4 linked regions of the Homo sapiens genome follow. The protein of the gene in region 4 purifies or fractionates together with the protein of the main gene of each other region. This does not show direct contact. Each region holds a gene or a part of one and is shown on either strand. Other genes may lie near its edges.

Evidence for each region.
Region 1: the proteins of NUP107 (region 4) and SEC13 purify together in Homo sapiens (affinity purification with mass spectrometry; 10 studies listed by BioGRID and IntAct, with this or other methods). This does not show direct contact.
Region 2: the proteins of NUP107 (region 4) and NUP37 purify together in Homo sapiens (affinity purification with mass spectrometry; 7 studies listed by BioGRID and IntAct, with this or other methods). This does not show direct contact.
Region 3: the proteins of NUP107 (region 4) and SEH1L purify together in Homo sapiens (affinity purification with mass spectrometry; 5 studies listed by BioGRID and IntAct, with this or other methods). This does not show direct contact.

Annotation. Positions count from the first base shown.
Region 1 is NC_000003.12:10,318,101-10,325,327, forward strand, and holds the start of SEC13 (protein SEC13 homolog), read right to left. Parts: upstream 3,013-7,227; 5' UTR 2,953-3,012; coding exon 2,950-2,952; intron 2,942-2,949; exon of another isoform or gene 2,771-2,941; intron 2,565-2,770; exon of another isoform or gene 2,409-2,564; intron 1,217-2,408; exon of another isoform or gene 1,180-1,216; coding exon of another isoform or gene 1,039-1,179; intron 1-1,038. UniProt on the Homo sapiens protein: Functions as a component of the nuclear pore complex (NPC) and the COPII coat. At the endoplasmic reticulum, SEC13 is involved in the biogenesis of COPII-coated vesicles.
Region 2 is NC_000012.12:102,110,101-102,117,126, forward strand, and holds part of NUP37 (nucleoporin Nup37), read right to left. Parts: intron 2,133-7,026; coding exon 2,008-2,132; intron 1-2,007. UniProt on the Homo sapiens protein: Component of the Nup107-160 subcomplex of the nuclear pore complex (NPC). The Nup107-160 subcomplex is required for the assembly of a functional NPC.
Region 3 is NC_000018.10:12,951,008-12,958,033, reverse strand, and holds part of SEH1L (nucleoporin SEH1), read right to left. Parts: intron 6,180-7,026; coding exon 6,129-6,179; intron 2,572-6,128; coding exon 2,425-2,571; intron 1-2,424. UniProt on the Homo sapiens protein: Component of the Nup107-160 subcomplex of the nuclear pore complex (NPC). The Nup107-160 subcomplex is required for the assembly of a functional NPC.
Region 4 is NC_000012.12:68,738,965-68,745,990, reverse strand, and holds the end of NUP107 (nuclear pore complex protein Nup107), read right to left. Parts: intron 4,179-7,026; coding exon 4,011-4,178; intron 3,637-4,010; coding exon 3,529-3,636; 3' UTR 182-3,528; downstream 1-181. UniProt on the Homo sapiens protein: Plays a role in the nuclear pore complex (NPC) assembly and/or maintenance. Required for the assembly of peripheral proteins into the NPC. May anchor NUP62 to the NPC. Involved in nephrogenesis.

The sequences.
Region 1 (7,227 bases), on a different chromosome or scaffold from region 4:
CCAAAGATATCACTGGTAAATTAACTCATGGCAGTTAGAATACAACCATCTCAAGTTCTTGACTGCATTTGTTTGTTCACTCACTCATTCATTCATTCATTCAGTAAGCATTCATTCTAAGTACCTTCTTTCTGCCAAGCACTGTGCTAGGAACTGGATATACAGACACAAATAAGAGGAACTTTTTGCCCTTGAGAAGCTCGCGAATAATGCTAGTGTCGCAAGATAAATTATTTAATGGTGGTTTGTGTGTCCTGTAGGAGCCTGAGGGGCTGGGGTGGTAGACACGAATTGAGCCCTAGATGATGGGTAGGAATTTGCAGGTGGCACAGGGGAAAATACCAGTCCAAGCAGCCAAGCAGAGGGAATACACGAGTAGAGACAAAGAGGTCTGAGAGAGCCTGATGTGTGTGGGGAAACGGCAAGCAGTCCTGGCTACCCTTAAGGTTGAGGAGAGACCCCAAGGGAGCTACAGCTGGTGTTCCTTTCCTGGATGACAGAGCCTCTGATGTTCCAGGCAGTTTATGCATAACGGGGTTATTACTTCAGACTGGGAGACTTGATTCGAGTGTTTCCTGAGGCTGCTCCCTGGTCCGTCACGTAGTGGGATCCAGAGTTGAACAGTTTGTAGGGCTGGAACATGGTGTCATGGTCATCTCCCTCCTATCTATTCTTTGAGGTCCAGCTCAAAAAGGGCCATCCATCACCTTTCTTGAAGATTCTCAGACCCTCAAATGGCTGGACTCTCTTGCATATCTTCAGCAAGGAACACATACAACACTTTATGCTGTTTCTTCTCCCCACTAGAAGGTGAGCTCCTTGGAGCCATGGTCTGAGCCATCTGCAGTTTCAAATCCCCTCAAATCATCCAGCACAGTGCTTTGCAAATAGAAGGAACTCAGCGACTATTTGCTGAATGAATAAGTAAATGAACAAAAGCTGTTATTTTTTTTCTTTGCTCAACCACTCTTCTCTTAAATTCTTGGGATAGAAAAGAGGACTTAAAAGAAGTTTCAGTGTGGAACAGACATTTCTTACCATTTTCCCCATTTCATCTTTTCCAGCACAAGCCCTGTAGGTATAAAGTTTGACTTGTGATTTCAGAAAGGCAGACAGTGGAAGAGGATGGCTGCAAAGCAGTTCAAGAGGTACACACCAAGTAAGCACAGGTTCTCTCATCAGATTCTAGACTCTCTAAAAACCAGGTCCCCGAAGTCTGCAAAGGCAAGTAAGGACAATAAGGAGTTTCCTCCATGTGCCGAGCTGTATAGGTTACAAAGTGCACAGGAAGGCGGGGAGGGCAGGGTACCAAGGGCACAGTCAATCAGAGACCTGCGACAGACTAAGGAAATGAAGAAGCCCAGAGAAGAGAAAGCACTTGCCAAAGTCACAGAGCTAGTTCAAGGCAGACCTGGGAAAAGAGCCCCATCCCCTAACCTTCTAATGCTGAGTCCACAAAACTTCACTCCACCAGGCTGCCTGTCTAGAATGTAAAGCAGTTGTTACACTGAGTTCTGTAAAGCTGCGGTTAAGTAGGTTCACGAAGAAAGTTTACTGAGAGGTAGTTTCAACCAGGTTACCAAAGGACCTTAGAAATAATCAGCATTTAATTCTAACCACTCTCACCCACCAGTCAGGGTTGATGAACCACACTTCTGAATGAGAGAGAGAGAGAGAGAGAGAGAGAGAGAGAGAAGGCGGGGGGGGGGGGGGGGGAGGAAAGAGGGAGGGGGAGAGAAAAGGACGGAAGGAAGGAGGAAGGGCGGGAGAGAAAGGGAGAGGGAGAGGAAGGGGGGAGGAAGAGGGAGCGGGGAGAGAGAGAGAGAAGAGAGGGAGGGGGAGAGAGAGAAAGGGAGAGGGAGAGGAAGGGGGGAGGGAGAGGGAGTGGGGAGAGAGGGAGGGTGGGGAGAGAGAGAGAGAGAGAGAGAACTTCTTAGAGTACTTCTTCCCAGGGACCTGGTATTATCTGGTCCCTGTTAACACCTGCACTCAAAATAATTCACCTCTTTGAGATCAGATAATGAGTTAAAAATTCATTTAGGATGAGCTGAATGTCAGAGCATAAAAGCCTCAACTCTAACCTGCAGTGGAAGAGCCAGAGGTGAGTGATTTACACCTAACCCTCTGCAGAACAAGAACACAGTGTTCTGATTTCTAGGTTCCTGCAGGTTCCCTCAAACCTGCTGCTGAGACACACCCATGTTTCTAAAAGAATGCATGTACTAGATATTCCAGGCTCAGCCCAGATACTTCCATTCTTTAGTTCTCCTTCAGTCATTCATTCACTCAAGGAGTAAGTGTGGAGTGAATGTACACTGCAGATGCCACAGAGACTTAAAAAACCCTGAGCCCCTGCCTTCGGAGGGTCGTTCAGGCCATCTTTACGTTTCCCGAGGTGCCCATCCTACCTGGGGGCCCTACCCCGAGCAACAGTTCAATCATCTCTGCTGGGAGCTGCAGTAGGCGGCAGAAAGGAATGGTTAGGAGGGTTCAAATCTCGGCTCTACTACCACTTAAGCAGCTGTGCAAGAGGCTCCACGTCTCCGAACCTCAAGTGTCCTCATCTGTAAAGTGTTGAGAAGAATAGCACCTTCTTCACAAGGCTGTTAGCAGGCGGAGATTACGAACAATGCTGAGGGCTCGGTATACAGTAGCTCCTCTGCTGTTCCTCGTTTTGTTTTCAATTGTTGACCGAAAAGAAGGAAGGGAGACTGGCAGGAGACGCAGGAGCGGCGCGCCCCGCAAAGTCAGGGAGGTTCCTCGGCCTCACCTCTGGACTCCCCTCGGAATGGTCCGCAAGGACGGGGCCAGAGCCCCCCAAATCTCTAAGCGGTGGAGGGGAGCTGAACGGCTCCAGCTTGGGATTTGGGACTCAGGACGGCCGAGGAACCCGTGAAGGCCGCGACCGTGGCCTTCACCCTGCTAGGCCTCCTCAGTACCAACACTCACCATGATTGCGGCGGTGGCTGCTCCAGGTCTCGGACGTGGCAGCTCCCGGCGGCGCCTCGGAACAGCTCACTTCCGGCGCCGGGCCCGACGGGCCGTGGCGTAGGAGCCTCCGGGCAGCAACGCGCTCGGCTCGCACAGCAGTTCCGCGCCTTCCAGAGGGCGCGCCCCGCCCTCCCGTGGCCCAGCCCCTATCCTCCAGTGACGTGCGAGACCAGAGGGCTGGGGCTCTGGTTGCCGCAGTTACCCTGACCCGGAGGGCTTTGGAATCTGAAGCTCTGGTGGGTCTACTCTCCCGACCAAGTCTGCCCTTTTCCTGAGATCCATAAATGAAAGAAAGGATTAATATAACTATCGGCCGGGCGCGGTGGCTCATGCCTGTAATCCCAGAACTTTGGGAGGCTGAGCTGGGGGGTGGATCACCTGAGGTCAGGAGTTCGAGACCAGCCTGGCCAACATGGTGAAACCCCGTCTCTACCAAAAATACAAAAATTAGCCGGGCATAGTGGCGCGCGCCTGTAGTCCCAGCTACAGGCTGAGGCAGGAGAATCGCTGGAACCCGGGAGGTGGAGGTTACAGTGAGCCGTGACTGCACCATTGCACTCCAGCCTGGGCAACAGAGAGACACTCTTGTAAAAAAGAAAAAAATCTATCTATCTATCTATCTATCTATCTATCTATCTATCTATCTATCTATCATCTATCTATCTGCAGCTTCACCCGCCTCACTACGGCTCTGGGTGCGACTGGTCTTATGATGAATGTTGTAGGATGAGTGACATCTTAGGAGTAAGTAGACTGTCCTAGTGCTTCCTTGTTGTAGTCTCCCTCTCAGTACCCAAGGACTGGGACCAGGGCAGAGGAGGCCAGGGAATGCCCCTCGCCAGAGGCTGGGACCTCTGGCCCTGCCATCCCTAACCCCTATATAGGACTGCCCCTTCCAAACCGATCCCCTGGGGTCCTGAGTAAGTCCCATCAAGGAGACCCCCCTAGGCAATGAAGGATCTCAGCCAGGCTCCTGCAGCTAGAGCCCCAGACCTAATCCTCAGGGTCCCCAACCCCAGGTCTCTGGCTTCACAAGGTAGGGCAGCTGAAGGCTCCCCACAAGCGCAGTGAGAATGCCACACTGGAGGACAGAGCCTGGGCTCCCCGCCTCAGCCACATATGGTCTAGCCCTGGGCCCCTTGTGACATTAAGGAGGCAGATGAGCTGGGGGAGGCCTTGGCTCCCCTTGGGCAAGTCACAGTCCTTCAGTTTCCTCTGCTGAAACTGGGAGTAAGGACCCTAGCTGGAGATGGTCACTGCTTGAAGGAAGATGTTAAGGCTCAGAGAATGTGATAGACCCAAACTGTCAAGGAGCTTTGGAGGGGAGGCCAGGGGAGTAGGGTGTTAGAATTAAGGGCCAGGCCTCTGGGCAACTCTTCTACCCCACTGCAGCTTTCAAGATTTTTTATTGCCCTCTAGTGGAGAAATTGTTGCAGGGGTGTGAGGGGGTGGTGGTTAGGTTAGAGCAGGGAACAAAGGCAGGTTTCAGGGGATCTCTTGGATCTCCTGTTGTTTTTTTTGTTTTTTTTTTTTTGGAGATGGACTCTAGCTCTGTTGCCCAGGCTGGAGTCCAGTGGTATGATCTTGGCTCACTGCAACCTCTACCTCCCGGGTTCAAGCAATTCTCCTGCCTCAGCCTCCTGAGTAGCTGGGATTACAGGCATGTGCCACCATGCCTGGCTAATTTTTGTAGTTTTAGTAGAGATGGGGTTTCACCATGTTGGCCAGGCTGGTCTCAAACTCCTGACCTCTGGTGATCTACTCTCCTCGGCCTCTCAAAGTGCTGGGATTACAGGTGTGAGCCGCTGCGTCCTGCCAGATCTCCTGTTCTTCAAGGAACAGGCTCTGGCCTTGGCTCTATAGCTGCACCACTGACTTTCTAGGTGATAAGGCCAAGTCACTTTTCTCTGAGCCTCACTTTCTTTGAGTGGAAAATGAGGACAAGGGCATATTAGATGTAAATATAATGCATCAGGCATAATTGTGATTAAAAGAATTTCCTTGTGTAGACACTGATGTTGAAGAGATTGGGGATTTGTGACAAGCAACAGAACTGTATCTTATTCATTAAGGTATTTGCTGTAAGGTATTTGGCCCATAAGGCGCTGTAATATGGCAGTTTAGAGTACAGATGCTGGCATCAAGACTGCTAGGTATCAGTGCTGGATCTCCTGCTTACCAGGTGGGCATGCTCTTCACCTCTTTGAGATGCTGTCTCCTGCTCTTTTGAGTGAGAATTATAATAATACCTCCTCTGAAGGTTGATATTGGGATTAAATGAACCCTTGGATATGAAACTGCGTATGGAAGTCAGATGGGCCTATGGCGCTTGATTTGGGGATCAGTTCAACCTAAGAAGAGCTGTGTGAGTGTGTGAGTGTGTGTGTAACTCTCAACCCTTGGGCCAACCTTAGGGATTACTTGTTGGTCTGGGCATATTCTCTTTCTCTGCCAATGTTCAGCAGAGGTTTGTGAAGTCCAGACTCCTCAGGTGCCAGGCTTCCCTCTGCCTTACCCCTCTCCCCAGTAGGGGGGTGCCACCTAGATCCAGTGTCTGTATTCCGCATCTCCTCCCTCTGGTTAATCCAGACCCCAAATCAGGCCAACTTTCCCTGATTTTTGCCCCCCCACCCCTTGCCCCCAAACCTCCTCCGCTTCGTCCTGAGGCCCCGTTCCCCAGTCTTCTTCTATGAGATGGTCAACCATTCCTCATAGGTTAATGGCTCATGGCAGGGTGAGCCTGTCTCCCTCAAATGGTGGGTGTTCAAAAGGTGTGATCTAGTGGAAGGAGAGAGACTGCCCGCTGAGCTGTGGGCCCTTGGGCAAAGTGCATTTCCCTCCCAGGGACTCAGTTTCCCCCTGAGTTCAACTCCACGAAGGGCGGGGACCCAGCTGTCCTTCAGAAAAAGGCCTTGTGATGTGTACCGTGTCTGCATTTCCACGTGTGCATTTATTGTTATTGCTCAGTATAGTGTTGAAAAGGCAGACAAATCCCATTAATTACAAAGAGCACAAGCCAAAGATACAGAGAAATAAAGAGTGTACAATAAGAGCACAGTCACTTCCCAGCCCCGATTGTCCCAGAGCCCCCCAGAGCCCGGGCAGCTTACGGAAGCTGGAGGCGGCACCATTCCCTCGCTACTCTATTATAAAATATGTGCACACAAGAGTTAGCAAAGTGTGGTGACCCCCGAGAGGAAAGGTCCAGGAGGGAGAGCACCACAGGCATTACAAAACAGACTTAGGGGGCTGAGAAGGGCAGTCCCAAAGCAGCCTCCAATATTGTTTTCAGTGGAGGGGGTGATGGCTGCTGCCTGGGGCTGGGGACCCTCCTCCCCCACCTGGGTTGGTATGATCTCTACATTAAAATCAGGAGAGCTTGGTTTGGAACTTTGAAAAGGCCTGGGGACTTCCTGCTATTGTCTGACTTCCCTCCTGGCTCTGGAAGGCCTAAAAGCCTTCAAGAAACGCTCTTCCCTACAAGAGCCTCTAATGGTGGGATTTTGGACACAATGGCAGGAGAGAGATTTGGGTGGGAGGCTTGTCAGAATGCACCAGGTTGGCAGCCTCCTGCAGGTAGCGCAAGAGTGGGCTAGGGGAGTGAGGGTTCCGAGAAGGCCCAGGCAAGAACTGCCTGCATCCCAAAGGTACTGGAGACTCCAAATTAAAGAGCAAGAAACTATCCCCCCAAAACAAAATGAAACAAAAACAACAAAAAACCAGTTCAGGAAAGGGAGATAGGAATAAAGGTTTCTCCATGATGAGAATTAGAAGTGCAGACAACTGGGCCACACATTCTTTCCCAGCTCCAGGCCTAGGAGAGACTCCTCTTTCTCGTCTGGACCAGGGACAGATGGCGGGTCCACCCCAACACAACCAAGGTGGGTGACTTTGGTTCCCAAGCTGAGATTGAGTGGGGGCCTGGTGACCTCTCATGACAACTCCTGGGCTTAGGGGGCAGGTGAAATGATGGGAGGAACAGCAGGCTTCTCTCAAGATCAGGATGCCCTTTTTGTCCCTCTTTACAGAACATAGTCTATTTCACAGCCCTGAGTGGACAGTAATTACAATGGGGGGAAGATGATGGCACAGGGAATGACAGAGCCCAGAATTTGGGGGTGGGAATGGGACAGGGGGTGGAGGACTGGGCACAATTTAAAGTTTATGTGGAAGAATAGATGTGAGAGAATAACTAGGAAATTTTGTAAAAGAAGAGTGAAGGGACTCATCCCACCA
Region 2 (7,026 bases), about 33 Mb from region 4:
AAATCACACAAAGATTTCTAATAGAAGAAACAAATATACCAAAAAAGCGTCAGCATTATCACTCATCATGGAAATGTCATTGTGGCATCAACCAGAATGGCTAAAATTAAAAAGACAGGCTGGGCACAGTGGCTCATGCCTGTAATCCTAACACTTTGGGAGGTCAAGGTAGGTGAATTGCTCGAGCCTGGGTGCTCGAGACCAGCCTGGGCAACATGGCGAAACCCCATCACTGCAAAAAATACAAAAAATTAGCCGGGAGTGGTGGTGCATGCCTGTAGTTCCAGCTACTTGGGAGGCGGAGGTGAGAGGGAGGGTTGAGGCTGAGCCAAGGGAGGTTGAGGCTGCAGTAAGCTGTGATTATGGGTCTGGCTGTCAGCCTGGGAGATAGAGTGAGACCATGTACCAAAAAAATAAAAAAAAAAAAAAGAAAGATTGACAATAGCAAATATTGGAGAATAGGCCAGGTATGGTGGCTCATGCTGTCATCCCAGCACTTTGGGAGGCCAAGGCACATGGATTGCCTGAGCTCAGGAGTTTGAGGCCAGCCTGGGCAACAGGCAAATCCCTGTCCCTACAAAAAATACCAAAATTAGCCAGGCATGATGATGGGCGCCTATAGTCCCAGCTACTCAGGAGGAGGCTGAGGTGGGAAGACGGCTTGAGCCTGGGAAGCAGAGATTGCAGTGAGTGGAGATGGTGCCACTGTACTCCAGCCTGGGCAATAGAGCCAGACCTTGTCTCAAAATGAATGAATGAGTGTTGGAGAGTAGGAAGACCACCCTTAGATTATTGGGGAAAAGACAAAATGGTAGAACCACTTTAGAAACTGGCATTTTCTTAAAATGTTAAACATACATCTACCCTGTGACTCAGCAATTCTACTCCTAAATTAAATCATATAACCACCCAAAGCAGTATTCAGCAAAAAATAATAACTAAAGCCTAGAAACTGTATTGGTACCTATTTACAGAAGAATGAATAAACAGACTATGGTCTATTGATACACTGTAATGGAGTACTACTTAAAAAGCACTGGTATACATAACAATGTGGAAAAATTGCAAAAACAAGCCAGACACAAAAGACATTCTGTATGATCCCACTTATATGAAGTTCTAGAATAGGCAAAACTGATTTCTGGTAATAGAAATCAGATCAATGGTTGCTTCTGCAGGGAGTGGGGTACAATGATTAACTGGGAAGAAGTATGACGAAACTTTCTTGGGTGACAGAAACAGTGCATGAATAGGGTGTGGGTTGTACAAATATACGTATTTGTCAAAACTGATCAAACTATACCCTTAAGAGCTGAGAATTTCAGAGTATCTAAATTATCCCTTAATTTAAAAAAAACGAAGTTAGCTTAATAGTTGATAACTTTTAGTTCCTAAGTACTGTCTACTAAAAGAAGACACATCTTTTAGATTTGACATTTGTAGAAGGCAAGGCTAGTGTTTTGTAACAGATCTTAAATAACCTAACATATTCTTGCCCCTGTAAAGAGGGCTTCAGCAGGCATTGCTAGGATTTTTTTCTCAGAAAACCATCATTCCTTTTAAACACTTTCACAAAAACTGAAGTCCAGGACCAGAACTTACAGATTTATATACTGTTGGACAAAAAAATGTGATCTTGGCCTATGGGTGGGGAAGGAAAGCTCATTAATGTCTCAACCAAATTTAGTTATTTTAAGTTATACTTTCAATAAAGTTGTAAATTCAGTGAACAATCTGTAAAGACCTTGATTCAGATGAATCTCACGTAAAAGGTTTTGTAGTTTGGCTCAAACACATGGTCAAGGCATCATAGTCATGGCTGTATATTTAAATCACAAATTCAGATGATAAGCCTAAATTATTAAGTAGTAGCAAATATCAAAATATCTAATATCTTGGATTGTGGAAAATGGAAATTGAGAAAAAAGTATCTATGATCAGACTTCCAATCATGTAACACAATCAAAGTACATTAGTAAGGAATGCATTTGGTACTGTTAAACTTACTTGATTACTGGAGGCAATGAATCAAGTCTAGTCTCTGGGCTCCAAGCTATGCCATCAACCCTGACTCCATGGTGAAATGTTCGAAGTGTTTTATACTGAATGCCTTCAACGTCTGCTTCTTCTTCCTAAGCATACACAGTAAATGTTTTAATAAGTAATGAGAACAAACAATATAATATTCTGTATTTCATTATAATGAATTTATCAGGAGGTTATGCTTATGCTTTTGAAAAGTTCAAAAGCAAATTACATATTAAGATTTAACTAGTTCATTGAATTAAAAAAAAATCCAAAGTTGTCTAAGCCTCACAAAATAACTCTCTAAGGCAACTAGAAACAAATGGTAAACATGTTCTACTTTATCTTAGGAGGCATTTCATAATAAGTTCAATGAAAATGGACTGCTTGGTCAGGCGTGTTGGCTCACGTCTATAATCCCAACACTTTGCGGGGCTGAGGTGGAAGGATTGCTTGAGCTCTGGAGTCTGAGACCAGACTGGGCAACACAGTGAGACCTGTGTCTACGTTATAAAAAAAGAAAACAAAGAAAATGGAATGCTCTAAAGAATCAAGATATTCTAGGTAAATGAATTACCAGAACCGGATTATCTACTGACAATATTAAAAAAATACACTGTACATTCTCACTACATGGAAAATACTTTGGGACCTTATAAAGACCTCAAAGTCTTTATAATCAGTGTCAATGATTTTCATGTAGTGTTACATGTGGCATTATATGTGTGTAAGATGCTACAAATAATTCATCTGAACTATTATTGTTTATGAATAGTGAATATGTAATAAATAATCTGGCTAATTTAGTTTTAGATATTTGATTCTGGGAATAAATGCTTAATAAAGTTGGCTTATTTATCCAGTTCAGCCCTACTAAAATGATTTCAGTTTATCCTCACGGGAAGGTGAGAAAAAAAATCAACTTTAAAAGTCAAGCCATCTGTCGCTGGCAATGGAGACAATAACCTGAAAAGTTCTCCCATTACAACATTGCAAAAATTCAAATACAGACAAGCAAACGACTACCAAGGTATGCAGCTGTTATAAGGGTATCTGCCTACATGCAATGATTTAAAGCTTCAGTTTGCAAGAGAGAAGAGACAAATCCTAGTGCCTGCACAAGGAAGGATGCCAGATCAGAGATTTCTGCATAGATCCAGGGCCCGATTAAGGGGAAAGCAGGAAAAAACAGACAAACAAAAAGAAAATCCTGCCATGCAAAATACCTACCATGAGTAAGGGAAGGATACTTAGGGGGCTTCAAAAGAATTGCTAATGTTCCTTTTCTTAAACTAAGCAGCAGGTATACAGGGATCCATCTTATTACTCTTTATGCCTTTATGGATAACACATTTTTTATAAGCATTAAAATACTGCTCAGCACCATAGGAAAGGTAAAAAAGAAAATGATAAAAAAATTTTGCAATTTTAAAAATAAGTAAATCATCCTTCTGTTATTTAAATCAATACCTGAACTGGGTTTGAGACTAAAGAAGGCCAAATTTTCGCGACAAATTTGTCCAAGGAATCTTCTGTGCTAACTACAGTTTTCTTTATAAAAGTGTATGGTATTATAAAGTATCAGGGAAAAAATCCAGCAGGTGAAACTTGATATTTAATGAAATACGTATGTCTATATTGATAGGAATTACTTGAAGGCCTGATCTAAGCATTCCATTCACCCAGAATCTAAATGCAAAGTTTTATAATGTATACTCGAATGAAATCCAAGTAGATATACTGATTTTTCCAGGATAGCCTATGGGATCCCAGTAAAGTCATTTCACAAATATACTACACATCTTTCTCTGCATAATTCAGATACCCTTTGAAAATAACTTCAAATTTCAGGTGAACTTAAGAGTTAACAGCAAAAAGTTTTTCCACAAATGAAAGAAATACACTTATCAAGGAAAGAAAAACACTGTCAAATTTTACTACTTCGTAATTTGTGTGTATAATAGTTGTATAGCTAACAGCCAGATATGCCAAGACAGCAGCCACTAAACAATTTTAAAATAAGTTTAGGAGCCTAATCATAGCTGACTTCACAGTTTGGATTACATCTATTTTTCCAAACTTGACAAATCAGTCTCCTAAAAATGAAGTTTTTGCATGTAAATACACATCATCTTGCTACTGTAACAATATTGTTGACAATCAAGTCCTTTAATTTGTTACCCAAATCACATATGGAATTACTGGGTGGTCATGGGGATAAAGAAATCTCAGGGACTGTACAGCCTGGGCTTTTTGTTTTACCAGTGAAACCTGTTTTCCTGGCAGCACTGTTTGCCACTGAGCCAACTAAAAGGCCCGTGTGTGTGTGTGGTATAGGCAGAGACAAATGCTATTTTGGATTTAGTTTGGGGTATAAGCAGAATTGTATAGGCAGGAAATTAAGATACTTTGGAAAACTTGCTATAATACAAATGATTATACAAGGTTTCGGCATATTTGAGGTTGGGGCAAAGCCAGGTTGATGGAAGGGCTATTATAAGGGTTTGAAACTGGCAGGCCCTCCCACCACACCCATTTAAGGCCAAATACAAATTTCAGTTAGTCAAGACTGTGAAGTTTCTCTAGTTCAATTCTTTCCCCCCAATGCTTGAATCCCTAGGAGAGCATCTGAAAAAAAGAGTTTACACAACCCCTCTCTGAACACTTCCAGTGACAGGGAACTAGCTATTTCTTTGGGAAGTTTATTCAATTGGGGGATAGCTCTAATTATTAGAAGAGTTCTTAACGTTAAGCCAAAATCTGTTTCCATGTAAATTCTACTCATTATTCCACGTTCCATCTCTGGAACCACACCAAATCAGTCTAACTTAATGATGACAAATATCTGGCCATAGCTGATCTCCTCTAGGTGAAGACACACTAAGCAGCAGATTCAGCCTCAGCCTGAAAGCATTATAAGCAACAACTCTGTCCATTCAAATAGAGATGACAAATAACATAAAATCCATTTACCATTGAGTCTAATACCTCTTTCACAGTTTTAAACATTTAGATACTACCCTGAAATTTGTATTAAAATACATTATCTTCTCTGAATCATAATATACTGCTGAGAACTACAGAGTATTATTATTATATTAAAGATTACTGTCGATTTACAGAGGAAGATGCAGAGAGAACTGTGCTGTCTGATATGGTGGCCACTAGCCACACAGGACCTTATGAAGCACGTGAAATGTGGCTAGTTCTATTTGATATGTGTACACTTTAAAAAGTGTAAAATACATACCAGATTTCTAAGTCTATTCAAGGGGTCTTCATTAGTGAATTGAGGCCTCTAGTAGAACTTGGATGAGAACATTGATTTAGGCAAGCATATATGTTCATGCTCCTCTGCCCTTTAACAAAGGTTTTTATAGCAGTTTTCTTATTGCACTGCTTTATATGTAAATATTTCCTTAAGGATATGGTCCTTGCTTTTTTCATGTCTTGGCACCCAGTATGCACTTAATGAAAATTTGACAAATACACGACACCAGTTAACAGTACTATCATTCAGAAGCTCATATGTCCATCATAATCAAAGGGACAACATGAGATTCTGAAAAATGCTTTATTGAAATTCAAATTCACTATATCTACAACGTTTTCTAAACAGCCTTAAAATAAGGATTATCTTTCTGTCAGGAATGTGAAAATCTTTCCACTTAATTTACCTTTACTTAGTTTTCTCTCAAGACAAGAGGCATGAAACTGGGTGCAATGGAACTTGAAGGTTCTAGGACAACAGAATAGTAATGTTTAACAGTGTTTAGCTAGATAAAAAATAACTCCACAGAAAAGCAATAATTTATTTTGAAATGGACTTACTTAATTGTATTTCCAATGTCTGATGCAGAATATAATTTGTGTTTACTATTGTCCAAATTAATAAAAATCTAATTTTTTCCTTAGTAATTTGGGCACGAGACCTACATTGCTAATCTCACAGGTATGAGGGTAACTGAGACAATACATGTGACCATAAACTATAACAGAACACAAATGTTTATACTAGTTCTTTTTTCTCATGTTAGTCATTTTCCTTCTTTCTCCCAACTTCTCCCTCTCTCATCTTTGCCTCTCTTTTCCTAATTTGTTCTCCACTGACTTTCTCCCTCAACATTTCTTAATCATAAATGAGATAAACATTTTTCAGTGTTTGCGAATACAATCCTATGTTGTTATTAATTTTAAAAGTAATGAAGTAAAAATTAGTTTTACCTGTAGGAGGCTGCTTTACTCTTTTGTACATTGGTGGCTTGCATTAGAGAAATGGTTTTTCCTCAGTCTTTTTCAAGTACGTAACATTGTCTTAATCATATGACTTTTTATGATCCTAAACCATGTCCATGTAAGTCAGGCTAGGGTCATATTTAGTCTAAAAGCTATTAATTTCTACTCCCACCCAAACAGACAGTACGAAATAGGCTAGGAGCTGTCATATTCTACTCAGACAGCAACAAACTGAAACTTTCAATTCACACTTCCTCTTAAATATGACTATATTCCAATTTGTAAAGCTTTATATATTCATTGTGCTATAAAATGCCAAATTGCATTTTTGATGTCAGAATACTGTAAGATACAGAATTGCCGCTGGGCATGGTGGCTCACGCCTGTAATCCCAGTACTTTGGGAGGCTGAGGCGGGCGGATCACGAGGTCAGTTCAAGACCAGCCTGACCAACATGGTGAAACCCCGTCTCTACTAAAGATACAAAAAAGTTAGCTGGGCATGGTGGCACGTGCCTGTAATTCGAGCTACTCAGGAGGCTGAGGCAGGATAATTGCTTGACCTCGGGAGGCAGAGGTTGCAGTGAGCAGAGATCGCACCACTGCACTCCAGCCTGGATGACAGAGCGAGACTCCGTCTCAAAACAAAACAAAACAAAAACAGAATTGCCTTCTCAGTAAAGGAGGAAATAACATTTATAATAACTATCACTTTAGTGATAGTTATTTTAAATCTTTGAAAATTGGACACTTCCAAATTACCGTG
Region 3 (7,026 bases), on a different chromosome or scaffold from region 4:
TTTACCACAATAAAAAATTGCATCATGGCCCTCGTAGTGGCTCACGCCTATAATCACAGCACTTTGGGAGGCCGAGGTGAGAGGATTGCTTCAGTCCAGGAGTTCAAGACCAGCCTGGGCAACATGGTGAAACCCCATCTCTACAAAATAAAAAAATCAGCCTGTGGTGCATGCCTGTGATCCCAGCTACTTGTGGGGCTAAGGTGGGAGGATCACTTGAGCCCAGGAGGTTGAGACTGCAATGAGCTGTGACTGGCTCTAACGTAGTATCATGCCATTAGGGAGGGCAGGTGAGGGGTAATAGCAGGACACTCCCACTACACACTTCCTTTTGTTTCTTTTGAATTTTACACCATGTGCATGATTATCTATTACAAAAAACAAATCATAAAGGGGGAAAAAAAGCATGCAGATGATAATACCTTCATATGAAAATGCTGGAAAGAGTCTTAAATATAATCTAGTTCAATGTTTTCACTTTATAGATGAGGAACTTCAACAGCACACAGATTATATTATGTTCTTGCCCAAATTCAAACATCCAATAAGGCAAAGACAGCGATAAAAGCAGATGTAGATAAAGGAGAGTGTATTTTTTTTTTTTTGAGACGAAGTCTCGCTCTTGTTCCCCAGGCTGGAGTGCAATGGCACGATCTCTGCTCATCACAACCTCCGCCTCCCGGGTTCAAGCGATTCTCCTGCCTCAGCCTCCTGAGTAGCTGGGATTACAGGCATGTGCCACCATGCTCAGCTAATTTTTGTATTTTTAGTAGAGGGGGAGTTTCTCCATGTTGGTCAGGCTGGTCTCAAACTCCTGACCTCAGGTGATCTGTCCATTTTGGCCTCCTAAAGTGCTGGGATTATAGGCGTGAGCCACCGCACCCGGCCGAGGACAGTATATTTCCTAAGAAAACAAAAGTAACCACAAAACAAAAGAAACAATTTTTATAGAATTTTTTTTTTTTTTGAGACAAGTCTCGCTCCGTCGCCCAGGCTGGAGTGCAGTGGCGTGATCTCGGCTCACTGCAAGCTCCGCCTCCCGGGTTCACACCATTCTCCTGCCTCAGCCTCCAGAGTAGCTGGGACTTACAGGCACCCACCACCATGCCGGGCTAATTTTTTGTATTTTTAGTAGAGACAGGGTTTCACCATGTTAGCCATGTTATTTATTTTATTAGGTGGGTATTTTCTGTAGAAAGAATTTGCAAGTAAAATGGTGGACTTACAGAATCTTTGTTTCAAAGGTTGGTTACGCTAAACTCTGAAGCAACTCTCCAACTATCAGCACTGGAAGTAGTCAAGTTTATCTGGCTAGATTTTTCTTTTATTAGTAAAATGTCAGAAGAACTGGACTTCAGAAGCATTACAATCCTAAATATAGAATGTCTTCTAAAGGTTAAAACATTCTGGAATTTAACTTTTTATTTACATGTTATGTTGATCAGTTTTCTTCTCTCATAGAAGTAAAACTATATTCTGTTTCCTGATGTAAAACCAGTGTTTATGAAATATGAATAAGTATTTAGGAAAAAAGAAGCCCTGGGATAATGAGTATCTGTTCTTTTCTTTTTTTTTTTTTGATTCCCCAGACACACAGTGGATCTGTATGGCGTGTGACATGGGCCCATCCTGAATTTGGCCCATTAAATTTATTTAAATTTAAATAAAATTTAAAGAATTTTATTAACCCTTGGCCAGGCGTGGTGGCTCACGCCTGTAATCCCAGCACTTTGGGAGGCCGACAGGCAGATCACGAGGTCAGGAGATCGAGACCATCCTGGCTAGCACAGTGAAACCCCGTCTCTACTAAAAATGCAAAAAATTAGATGGGCGTGGTGGCGGGCGCCTGTAGTCCCAGCTACTCAGGAGGCTGAGGTAGGAGAATGGCGTGAACCCGGGAGGCGGAGCTTGCAGTGAGCCAAGATTGTGCCACTGCACTCCAGCCTGGGTGACACAGTGAGACTCCGTCTAAAAAAAAAAAAAAGAATTTTATTAACCCTTAAGAGTTTAAAGTTAAAAAAAAAAAAGAATTTTAGAGTTAGGCACAGTGGCTCATGCCTATAATCTCAGCAACTCAGGAGGCTGAGGTGGGGCCAGGAGTTTGAGACTGCAGTGAGCCAGAATACTTTAAAATCATATATTACTATCATAAAATATACTAATAGGTAAAATCAAATACAATGCAAATATTCTGGATTCATCATAAAAGTTATAAACAATGCAGTGATGCTCCTAAGTATTGCTTCAGACCCAAGTTAAAATGAAATAAAAAAGGAAGAAAAAAACATGGAAGAAAGAACTTTAGAACTGGTAAAACTAGAGGGGAGTGGTGATATTTTACCAATTATCTGAGGTAGCCTTCGGATGAATGCTCCTTGGCTGCTCATGTCTTCCCGGTCCCCAGAATACTAATAAATGTCTCACCCAGTGGCTCTGTCCTCGCAGTTTATCATTTGATTCTCCTACTATTTCTTCCCATACAGCAGCTGTTCGGTCAAAAGAACAGGAAGCCAAAACCTGCCCAAATTCAGGATGGGCCCATGTCACACGCCATACAGATCCACTATGTGTCTGGGGAATCAAAAAAAAAAAAGAAAAGAACAGATACTCATTATCCCAGGGCTTCTTTTTTCCTAAATACTTATTCATATTTCATAAACACTGGTTTTACATCAGGAAACAGAATATAGTTTTACTTCTATGAGAGAAGAAAACTGATCAACATAACATGTAAATAAAAAGTTAAATTCCAGAATGTTTTAACCTTTAGAAGACATTCTATATTTAGGATTGTAATGCTTCTGAAGTCCAGTTCTTCTGACATTTTACTAATAAAAGAAAAATCTAGCCAGATAAACTTGACTACTTCCAGTGCTGATAGTTGGAGAGTTGCTTCAGAGTTTAGCGTAACCAACCTTTGAAACAAAGATTCTGTAAGTCCACCATTTTACTTGCAAATTCTTTCTACAGAAAATACCCACCTAATAAAATAAATAACATTAGATTTATTTGCTCCAAAATCCATACAGACAGAAAGTAGATTAGTGGTTACCAGCGGCTGGGAGCAGAGTAAACAAGAAGTGACTGCTAAATGAGCACAGGGTTTCCTTTAGAGGTGGTAAACAATGTTCTGAAATTAGAAGTGGTGGTGGTTGCCAATTAAATGAATATACTTAAAATCACTAAATTGTACACTTTAAATGGGTGCACATTATGATATGTAAATTATAGCTCAATCAAAAAAATACTTTTTTTTCATTTGATTCAACCAGGCATAGTGGCTCACGCCTGTCTTCTCAGCCCTTTAGGGGGCTGAGGTGGGCAGACTGCTTGAGCCCAGGGGTTCAAGACCAGTCTGGGCAATATGGCAAAATGCCATCACTACAAAAAATACAAAAAATTAGTCAGGTGTGGTGGTATGCACTTACGGTCCCAGCTGCTTGGGAGGCTGAGGTGGGAGGATCACTTCAGCCTGGAAGGTTGAGGCTGCAGTAAGCCAAGATTGTGCCACTGCACTCCAGCCTGGGTGACAGAGCAAGAACTTGTCTCCAAAAAAAAATTATTTGCTTCAAAAGTCTAACAATATATAGAGATTATAGCCATAGAATGCTTAAATGATTTTAACTGACAATACAGTCTATCGATAACAGACTATTGTAGGAAGAGCAAATATGGGGAAGCCCAAATCCTTACACCCCTCCTGTTGGCCAAGGGGTGGGAGGGGAGGTGGCTGGAGAAGGGATACAAAGGTCTTAAAGAATTTCACCATCAAAAGAATTTGCTAGGTGCTTCTCAGGGAAAATACTGTATAATAACAAATAACATTCAGAAAATGTGTTTCACACTGTATAGCTAACATTTTTTACATTCAACAACATAAAAATAGTTTAACCAATAACTTCTACATGGTAACAATGTCACCAACTAAAGGTACATTTTGCACCCTTTTTTTTTAACCTTGTTTTGTCCAGTCTTTTCTGTATCATCTTTAATTCTTACTTATACAGGGCTATAAAATTAAAAATGCACACTAAGGCAGATAAGTTTTATTAGATTTACAGTAAAATGCAATCTAAAGAATAAGGTTTGCACAAAGATGCTCATCACAATAAAATGGAAACTGAAATATCCACTAGTTAAGCAAAATGGTATATTTATTGGCTGTTAATAAAAAGCCTTTAAAGATATAGAAAAGTACATATGAAATATATTAGGCTTAAAAGCAAGAGATGGGGTTTCCTTTTGGAATAATAAAAATGTTTTAGAACTAGAAAAAGGTGGTAGTTACACAACACTGTAAATGAAGTAAATGCCAATTAATTGTTTACTCTGAAATTATTAATTTTATAAGTTAACCTCACCTTAAAAGGGGGGGGGACCTTGGATAGACCTTTCACAAAAGAAGATACATGAATGGTAAATAAGCATATGAAAAAATAATCAACATGAGGTATTAAGGAAATACAAATCAAAATCCAATGATTTTTGTGGTCACTTCTCAACTACTAAAATGGCTATAATAAAAAAGACAGATATTATCGAGTGTAGGTGAGGATGTAGAGAAACTGGAACCTCACACATGGCTGGTGGGCACAGCCACTTTGGAAGAGTTTCGCAGTTTCTTAGAAAGCTAAGTGCATATAGCCCATCAATTCCACTCCTACGCATCTATCCAAAAGAAATGAAAATATATGTCTACACAGACTTACATGGCACGTTCTTAACATTACTCATAACAGCCAAAAACAACAACTCAAATGTCCGTCAACTGGTGAACAGACAAACAAAACGTGGCAATATACATACAACGGACTACTCAGTATCAAAGGAACAAATTGACACATGACACAATATGGATGAACCTCAAAACATGCAAAGGGAAAGTGGCCAGACACAAAGGACTATGTATTTCAAAATTCCATTTCTATGAAATTTCTAGAAAGGATAAACCAGGCCAGGCATGGTGGCTCAAGCCTGTAATCCCAGCACTTTGGAAGGCCAAGGCGGGCGGATCACTTGAGGTCAGGAGTTCGAGACCAGCCTGGTCAACATAGTGAAACCCTGTCTCTACCAAAACTACAAAAATTAGCCGGGTGTGGTGGCATGCGCCTGTAATCCCAGCTACTCAGGAGGCTGAGGCAGGAGAATCGCTTGAACCCAGGAGGCAGAGGTTGCAACGAGCCAACATCGCACCACTGCACTCCAGCCTGGGCGACAGAGCAAGACGCCAGCTCAAAAAAAAAAAAAAAGAAAAGAAGAGAAGAGAGGGTGGGAGGGGAGGGGAGAGGGAGGGCAGAGGAGAGAAGAAACCTATGGAGACAGAAAATGGATCAGTGGTTGCCTGGGGCTTGGAGTGGGAATAGGATACAAAGGAATTTCTGAGTTTGAGAGAAAAGTTCTAAAACTGGATTACAGTGATGACTACACAACTATGTAAGTTTACTAAAACTCACTGAACTGTACATTTAAAATGGATGACTTTTAAGGTATGAAAATTTCTACTTGGCCGGGCACAGTGGCTCATGCCTATAAACCCAGCACTTTGGGAGGCCGAGGGAGGATCACCTGAGGTCAGGAGTTTGAGACCAGCCTGGCCAACATGGCGAAACCCCATCTCTGCTAAAAACACAAAAATTAGCCGGGCATCGTGGTGCACGCCTACAGTCCCAGCTACTTGGGAGGCTGAGGCAGAAGAATCACTTGAACCCAACAGGCGGAGGTTGCAGTGAGCCAAGATCACGCCACTGCACTCCCACCTGGGCAAGAGAGCAAGACTCTCCGTCTCAAAAAAAAAAAAAAAAGAAAATTTCTACTTGAGTAAAGGTTTTGTTTTTTTTTTTTAAGAGAAAACTATGTATGAAACATCACAACAATTAAAATATGTAAAGGCAAAAGGAATATTCTGAATTACTAAGATAATTATGTTAGAATGCTACAGAATTACAGATTTTCTTACTCTCAAATTCTGAGAAACACAGTTGTTACTTTAATAGCGAAAAACAGTAAAATGTCTTCCCAGGAAAAGAACTACTGTATAAATGTTATTTTCTCAAAACAATTCATAGATAACTATAAAATAAACAGTAAATATTTCTGTATTTTTAATAAATGTAAAAATAAATACTAACCTTCCAGCTAGCAGTACAATGCCAATCACCACTTTCACTTTTATCCCAGACCTATAAGAAAATAAAAGGCAGATATTTTATACAAAAATTCCTACAAATTGATACAAAAACTATAAGACTGAATCAGTGTACAAGGAAAGCGGTGAACATATAGTTAACAAAAGAACACAATCAGCAAGTAAACATTCATTCATTCAATTAAGTATTTATTGAGAGGCTGGGTGCGATGGCTCATGCCTGTAATCCCAGCACTTTGGGAGGCCAAGGCAAACGGATCACCTGAGGTCAGGAGTTCGAGACCAGCCTAGACAACGTGGTGAAACCCCGTCTCTACTAAAAATACAAAAATTAGCCAGGCATGGTGCCGCATGCCTATAGTCCCAGCTACTAGGGAGGCTGAGGCAAGACAATCGTTTGAACCCCAGAGGCGGAGGTCGCAGTGAGCTGACATCACGCCACTGCACTCCAGCCTGGGAGACAAAGCAAGACTCCGTCTCAAAAAATTTACATTGAGAACCTTGAATGTGTCAAGCACTGGGCCAAGCACCAAGGGATTCAGGAAGCTGAGCTCTATTAGGTAACAGAGACAATTAGTTACAGTCACTACGCTTGGAGGCCATTTTAAACAGCAAAATCACCAACAGAAAGAACAAATAATCATTGCACTAAATAAATCATGAAAAACACCTGCTTACAGTATGAGCCAAAATAGAGTATCGCCTGGTTTCACCTCAATGGGAAACGTCTGTCCTGAGACTCAAACTTTTTCACCACTCCTCACACATGCACAAATGACTGCAAAACCAGTGTGACTTTTGGGGTACAAGTAAATTTCAGAGTAGACAAATTCAAAAAATACAGAATCTACAAACAACAGGCTCAACTGTACATGTAACAA
Region 4 (7,026 bases):
ACGCCTACCTGACTGGACCAATCTAGGACCCCTTTCTTGATGTTTGTTTCCTGTGTGTCATTGACCCGATTTGCTAGACAACTTCTCTCTGGCTGTGCAGACACTGTTAGCCAATTTTACGTATTAAATGCTGAGCAAATTTAGTAGCCCTCGCCAGAGGGGGGAAAGAACTTATTGAAAGCATGTTTTTATTTTTTATTTTTGGAAAAAGACATTCAAAATTTACTTTCCAACAGACAGCATCATCGGGTATAACTACAAGGGTTTCTCCTTAGATCATACATTCACAAAGCATTATTAGCTCAACAGTGAGAAAATGTGTTCTCTAAAGATGTCCCCTTGACAATGTAAACGAGTGCTACTGTGTTCACTTACAACTCGAGAAAAAAACGTACAACCTGGCAAAACCGTATATATATACAGCTGTCTCTAGGGGTGCATACAAATATATATATATGTTTTGGATCAGGTCAGGTGCAATGACTAAGAGATAGAACTTTGAGTAACAGTCTTGATCGACAGTAAGGTCCTTCACACAGAAGTCAGGTTCTTCCTTTCTCCTTCCTCCTTAAGTCGATAAAGAAAGATTATATATTGTAGATATTACAGGTACAAAAGGAGATTTTTAAAAAAGGAATCACAAAAACATCTTGAATGTCCAGCTGTTCCTGCCAATACATCAATTCTTAGTTTTAAGACAGAGTCTAGGATTAATTCAGCAGTCATAAAATTAAAAAGAGAGACTGTGGTACAAAAAATTTAAAATAAATGAGGAAGTAGGGCATGGTGGCGTGGGCCTGTAGTCCCAGCTATTTGAGAGACTGACGTGGGAGGATTGCTTGAGCCCAGGAGTTGGAAGCCGGGATGGGCAACATAGTGAGACCCCCATCTCTAAATTAAATAAATAAATGAGGTAGGGAAATTAAAACTTTCACACCCAGGACATGCCTGTTCCAACTTTGTAGCCTTCATGCAATGCTCAAGGAAAAAGTCTTCATAATTCCTTGGCATAAGTCACACCAAGAAAAGTTTTTAAAACTTAGTATGCGAACCTGTGATAGGCAACACGCCCTTCCCTGAGTTTCCTCTCTAGAATGAAAACCCAGTTCTTCAAGAGTAGGCACTGAGGAACTAAATTAAGTTGCCTGAAATTTCCCACTCAGGTGCCCACCACTTCTGGTGTTCAGGAAGAGAGGCATTTGGGAATTGTGAGGAGCACATTGGCACTCTTGGGGCTCCAACTGAACTGTATTTAAATAAGCAGCAACACACACATTGACTCCCTAAGGACTCAAAGGAGTCCAATTGGCTGGGTGCAGTGGCTTATGCCTGTAATCCCAGCACTTTGAGAGATCGAGGCGAGTGGATCACTTGAGGTCAAGAGTTTGAGACCAGCCTGGCCAACATGGCAAAACCCCGTCTCTACTAAAAATACAAAAATTAGCCAGGCGTGGTGGCAGGCGCCTGTAATCCCAGCTACTAGGGAGGCTGAGGCAGGAGAATCGCTTGAACCCAGGAGGCGGAGGTTTGCAGTGAGATATCATGCCACTGCACTCCGGCCTGGGAGACAGAGCAAGACCATGTCTCAAAAATAAATAAATAAATAAAAATTAAAAACAAGTCCATTTGAGGGCATCCTAATTAAGAGTCTAAGGTTGAAGGAATTTTGTAATTCCACAACCTTAGTGGGTTTCTGTGCTGTGTTTTTTAAAGGACATTCAAAAAACAAGGCACAACAAAAGACAAATACAGAGTGGGGGACATGCAAAACAAGTTCCTAAATAGATGACAGACCTTGTCCATTTACCCACATACGGTTACGATGGAAGCATACAATATTCCTCCTCCTCATTTAGGCTAAGTAGTTTTCCCACTGTTGTTCAACAAATAGGTAACAGTCTTTGGAAATAGTCACCCTGGGTTGTACAAAGTTTCTATATATACAGTTTGTTGCAAGTAACAAAACTACTTTTAAGACTCACTTATTTCCCCTCCCCACCCCAAATCTAGTCTGTATTTGTTTTGGTATGAATTTTTTGTTTTTATTTTTTGCAAAGTAGCATAGCAATAATCATGATTACAGGACTGCATGAGCTGTAAAAATCATTTGCATATTAGTAAGAATAAAGAAAACAGGAAGACAAGATGAATTCTTTAGAGAAATAAAACAAAAAAAGCACATAATATAGAACTGATCAAATTCTATGATCCCATCTCAGGCTTCCCAAGCCAGCTGTCTCTAGGGGTGGCATCTATAAATACATATTCAAGAAATTCCTTAGATGATTAGCAAGTTTGGGGAATTACTGTTTTCTATTAGAATCACATTCTTTTAGTTGTCTCCTGTTTATAAGCCCTACACTCTAGCCTATTTGGTGTATTTGTTGGTTCATAATAATGCCCAGCATTTATCATTTCTTGCTCATACTGATTTCTTAATCTATAGAGCCTCATCCTTCTTGTGTCACTCTTTGCCTTTGCAAATTCAGTGCATTACTCAAACCCCAAACCAATACTACTTCCTGAGAGTCTTTTCAGCTGGAGAGAGGTTCTTCCTGCTCAGACTACTTGTAATTCTTTCTTTTTTTGGAGACAGTGTCTCGCTCTGTCCCCAAGGCTGGAGTGCAGTGGCGTGATCTCGGCTCACTGCAACCTCTGCCTTCCAGGTTCAAGAGATTCTCATGCCTCAGCCTCCCCTGAGTAGCTGGGATTACAGGCACCTGCCACCATGCCCGGCTAATTTTTGTATTTTTTTAGTAGAGACAGGGTTTCACCATGTTGGCCAGGCTGGTCTCAAACTCCTGACGACAGGTGATCCACCTGCCTCGGCCTCCCGAAGTGCTGGGGTTACAGACGTGAGCCACTGCACCCAGCCACTACTTGTATTTTTAAATGACACCTTTTAAATGTACTTATGGTATTTCCCCTATTAGAAGAGCGGGATCTGTAATCTCCAATATATTCAGTGCTTACTGTGTGCCAGGTACTACGCTAAGTCTTTATATGCTCTTATTTTGATAGGAAGTTTGCTAAATGAAAGTTAAACTAGAAATGTCTTCAAAATAACTAAAATAATAATAGCATGTTATGTTAGAAAAATTCTTGTTATAGTCATCTTCTTAATTTTAATATTCAAAAATACTAAATTTTATGATAAATAAAAAATTACGTACCTGGCTTAAAAATAAATCTACTTTCCATCATCTTTATGATTTTAAAATATCAGAATGCTTATGATTACAGAAAAAACTAGAACAGAAAATTTAATTTTCTTATTACATGAAAAAGAGACAACCCTGGAATTTGTAAAAACAGAAAATTTTAATTTTTATATAGTTTTATTAACAAGCACACAGAGAAACGCTGATATCCCTACATGTTGAAAGTGTCACGATAATATTCTGAAAAGTACAAAATTCAAATGTCTAAATTTTACATGGTAATGCAAAAGAAAAAATTACTAATAACAAGTATATTTTATTAAAAACTTCATTTATCATGAAAATTAGTGAGATTACAAAGATTAAACTATAACTGAATTTCATACCCTAATGGGTCAAGTCCCTGGTCTAGGAGCATTAGAGAGGACTCTCTGAGCTTCTGCAGCAACTTCCTTAGCTCTTCCTTAGAAAATACCTGATTTTTAAAAAGAGAAATAAGAATGAGAACAAAGACAAGTAGACAAGTATGAACTTAGTTACCTAATCGATCTGATTAGCTTCATATAAGAAGAAATGCCTCTTTAAGATTTATGTAGCCAGAGCCTAGTAAATTAGAGTGGTTCAGGAATTTCAAGGTGAATTCTCAGAGTCAGTCTATATATTTCTAACTGCTTACAAATATACACACATTTTGGGAAAAAAGTACAAACATTAAAACATTAAAACTGGACTATTACTTTAAGAAAATCCAAGAGCAATTACAAATGTAAACACATCTTCACAAAATTAATATTACTACAGAGCATATCAAATCATTAAAATTTAAAACTACAAGGCTCTAGAACTTACCAGGTACAGTTTGTGGCGCTCAGAGGATACCATATCTGCTAACTGTAGGCATTCCTGATACTGACCAGTACTGTGCAATATCGTATGAAGCAGAAAACACAACATTGGCAGACAAAGCTTTCTCAGTAAGACCATTTGATGTGTTCTTTCATGGTCTTCTTTGGCATCCTACAAACAGACATCAATAAATCATTTTAACAATTTAAGCTAAAGATCCTTACAAAAAGAAAAGCCAGGTACTGAATCAAACCCAGAATGTAATTGGTAGACAAGATTTAACAGCAAAAAAGTATGAAGATGAACAACGTAGACTACAGAGAGGTATGACAGTGAAAATAAAATGCTTCTGCATTTGTATTTCTAATAAACTTACTATGTCCTGAATAAAAACATGCATAAAAAGAATGAGTTGGAAACTGAATATCATTAGAGCAAAAATCAGAACAGAAAACAATCACCACTCCTTTGGATGTTTATACATATAAATAAAGATAGCTCTAAGGAGGCCTGAGAGGACACAACAGACTGACAGCAATGACTGTTGCTGGGAAAAAGACGATGTGGGGAGGGGCACACAGGGAGGGTCAACTTCATTGCAGACTACTTTGCTTATACACATGGAAAATGGAATTTATAATTTCTTTATATAATTTTTAAAAACAGAAAAACAGAACCTATAGATTTGAATAATACAATTAATGAGTCAGAACAGATATATAAGGAAAACAAGCAGAAAAAACAATTGGCATTCCTTTATACATACATGGATCTTTCTTAAAATCGATGTGAACAGTAAAAGTACAGAAAAAAGAGTAAACCTCTTATGCCCACTACATTTACTTACAAAAAATTTGAAAATTAAAATAATTAGAAAGTAACCAACCACATAATTTCTTTTTTTTTTCTTTTCTTTTTTAACCTTTTTCTTCTTTTCTGAGACAGCATCTCACTCTGTCGCCCAGTCTGGAATGCAGTGGTACAATCATGGCTCTCTGAAGCCTTGATCTCCGGGCTCAAGCAATCCTCCTACCTCAGCCTCCCAAGTAGCTAAGAACCACAGGCATGTGCCACCATGCCCGGCTAATTTTTCTATTTAAAAAAAAAAATAATTTTATTATTTGTAGAGATGAGGTCTCCCTATGTTGCCCAAGCTAGTATCGAACTCTTGGGCTCAAGTGATCCTCCTGCCTCAGCCTCCCAAAGTGCTGGGATTACAGAAATTACACACTACAATTTCTGAAATAATCTTAAAAATAGGAAGGAAATCAATAGCACTAATAGTGTAGAAAAAAAAAACAGGACAAGCTAAAATAATAACTGCTCCTTTGAAAAGCCTAATGGAATACCTAAAAGTATCTTCATGTGAGAGGCTATATTAAATTGCTAAAACATTTTTCAAATGGACATGTAAGTGGAGGGGTTAATCAACAACAAAGTATAATCTGGTAATTATACCAAGGAGTAATTGTACTAATTTGGGCTAATCTAGGTCAGGTTTCCAAACATAGGAAAAATTACTATCAATATTTTGGTCTTGTTTGAAGCATAAATACATAAAAGCAAATATTAAAGTGCTTCTTTACAAGGGAAGCACCTTTATTTCTTTTCTCAAATAGATACTTGCTACCTTCAGAGGTGGATTTAAAATGCTTCAAGGTTTTACTTGTAATTCATATTAGTGATCCCAACCTAGAACCCAGTAAGAATAAGAGAACTGCTTCTTTCTGGACCTTTCCATTTGTGCTCCAATGTAGTCTTTCTGTCTATGTTAAAGAGGCCGGGTGCCCCTGGCTTCTGACTCCTTGTTGCCCGAAAAGCAGCAGGTTACTTTCTTATCTCACAGGATGGACCCAGACTTGCTTTTACTAAATCCTTTTGCTGCCATAATATCAGAGTGTGCTGCAGACAATCTCTTCTGCTAATTATAATGAATTCCGATACTAGCGGGCGGGCTGCCAGCAACTATCCAGGGTAATGGCTGACAGACCCAGCAAATTGCTACAAGGAAAAGCAAATAAACAGCTCTGCTACAACTGAAGACATTTTTCTCATCTGAATGAACAAAAGCTTTGAAATAGCCGGTAAATATGTAAAACAGACGGATTATTTCCACTAGGGATATTTCCACTTTTTTTTTTTTTTTTGAGACGGAGTCTCGCTCTGTCGCCCAGGCTGGAGTGCAGTGGCGCGATCTCAGCTCACTGCAAGCTCCGCCTGCCGGGTTCACGCGATTCTCCTGCCTCAGCCTCCCGAGTAGCTGGGACTACAGGTGCCCGCCACCACACCCGGCTAATTTTTTGTATTTTTAGTAGAGATGGGGTTTTACTGTGTTAGCCAGGATGGTCTCGATCTCCTGACCTCGTGATCTGCCCACCTCAGCCTCCCAAAGTGCTGGGATTACAGGCGTGAGCCACCGCGCCCCCCCATGTAGTGCCTTACATGTGAGAAAAACTCATTACCTAATATGTGTTGATAGCAAGAGTTGATTGGAACTGATATTACAGCTATTCCTAATCTGAAGACAGTACATTCACCTCAGTAATGCAGTATCATTCATTTACTAAGTACCACTGAAAGCCTCCCATGTGCTCAGCATTATTTTAAGTGCCAGAGTCAAAGAAATAAAGAAAACAAGGTTACTCCCTTCATGAAGGTTATATTCTAATGAGGGTAGACATACAAAAAGCAAATAAATTAATATGTTTTATATCAGATTGTGCTAAGTGCTATGAAGAAAACTAATGTAGGATATGGAGATTAAAAGGGACAGGTGTGTGTGTGTGTATACACATGCATACATGCTATTTTAAATAGGGTGGTTGGGTTGGGGAGAGGTTCTTGAAAGAGATGACATTTGAGCAGCTGCTGAAAGAAGTACAAAGTCATCCATGCACCTATCTTGGCGAAGGAGCATTCTAGGCAGAGGGGAACCAATGAAGAGGCCCAGAATGCCAGGATATAGTGATGGGAGAGCAGTAGGACACAAGATTAGGGGGTTAGTTTAAAAAAAAAAGAA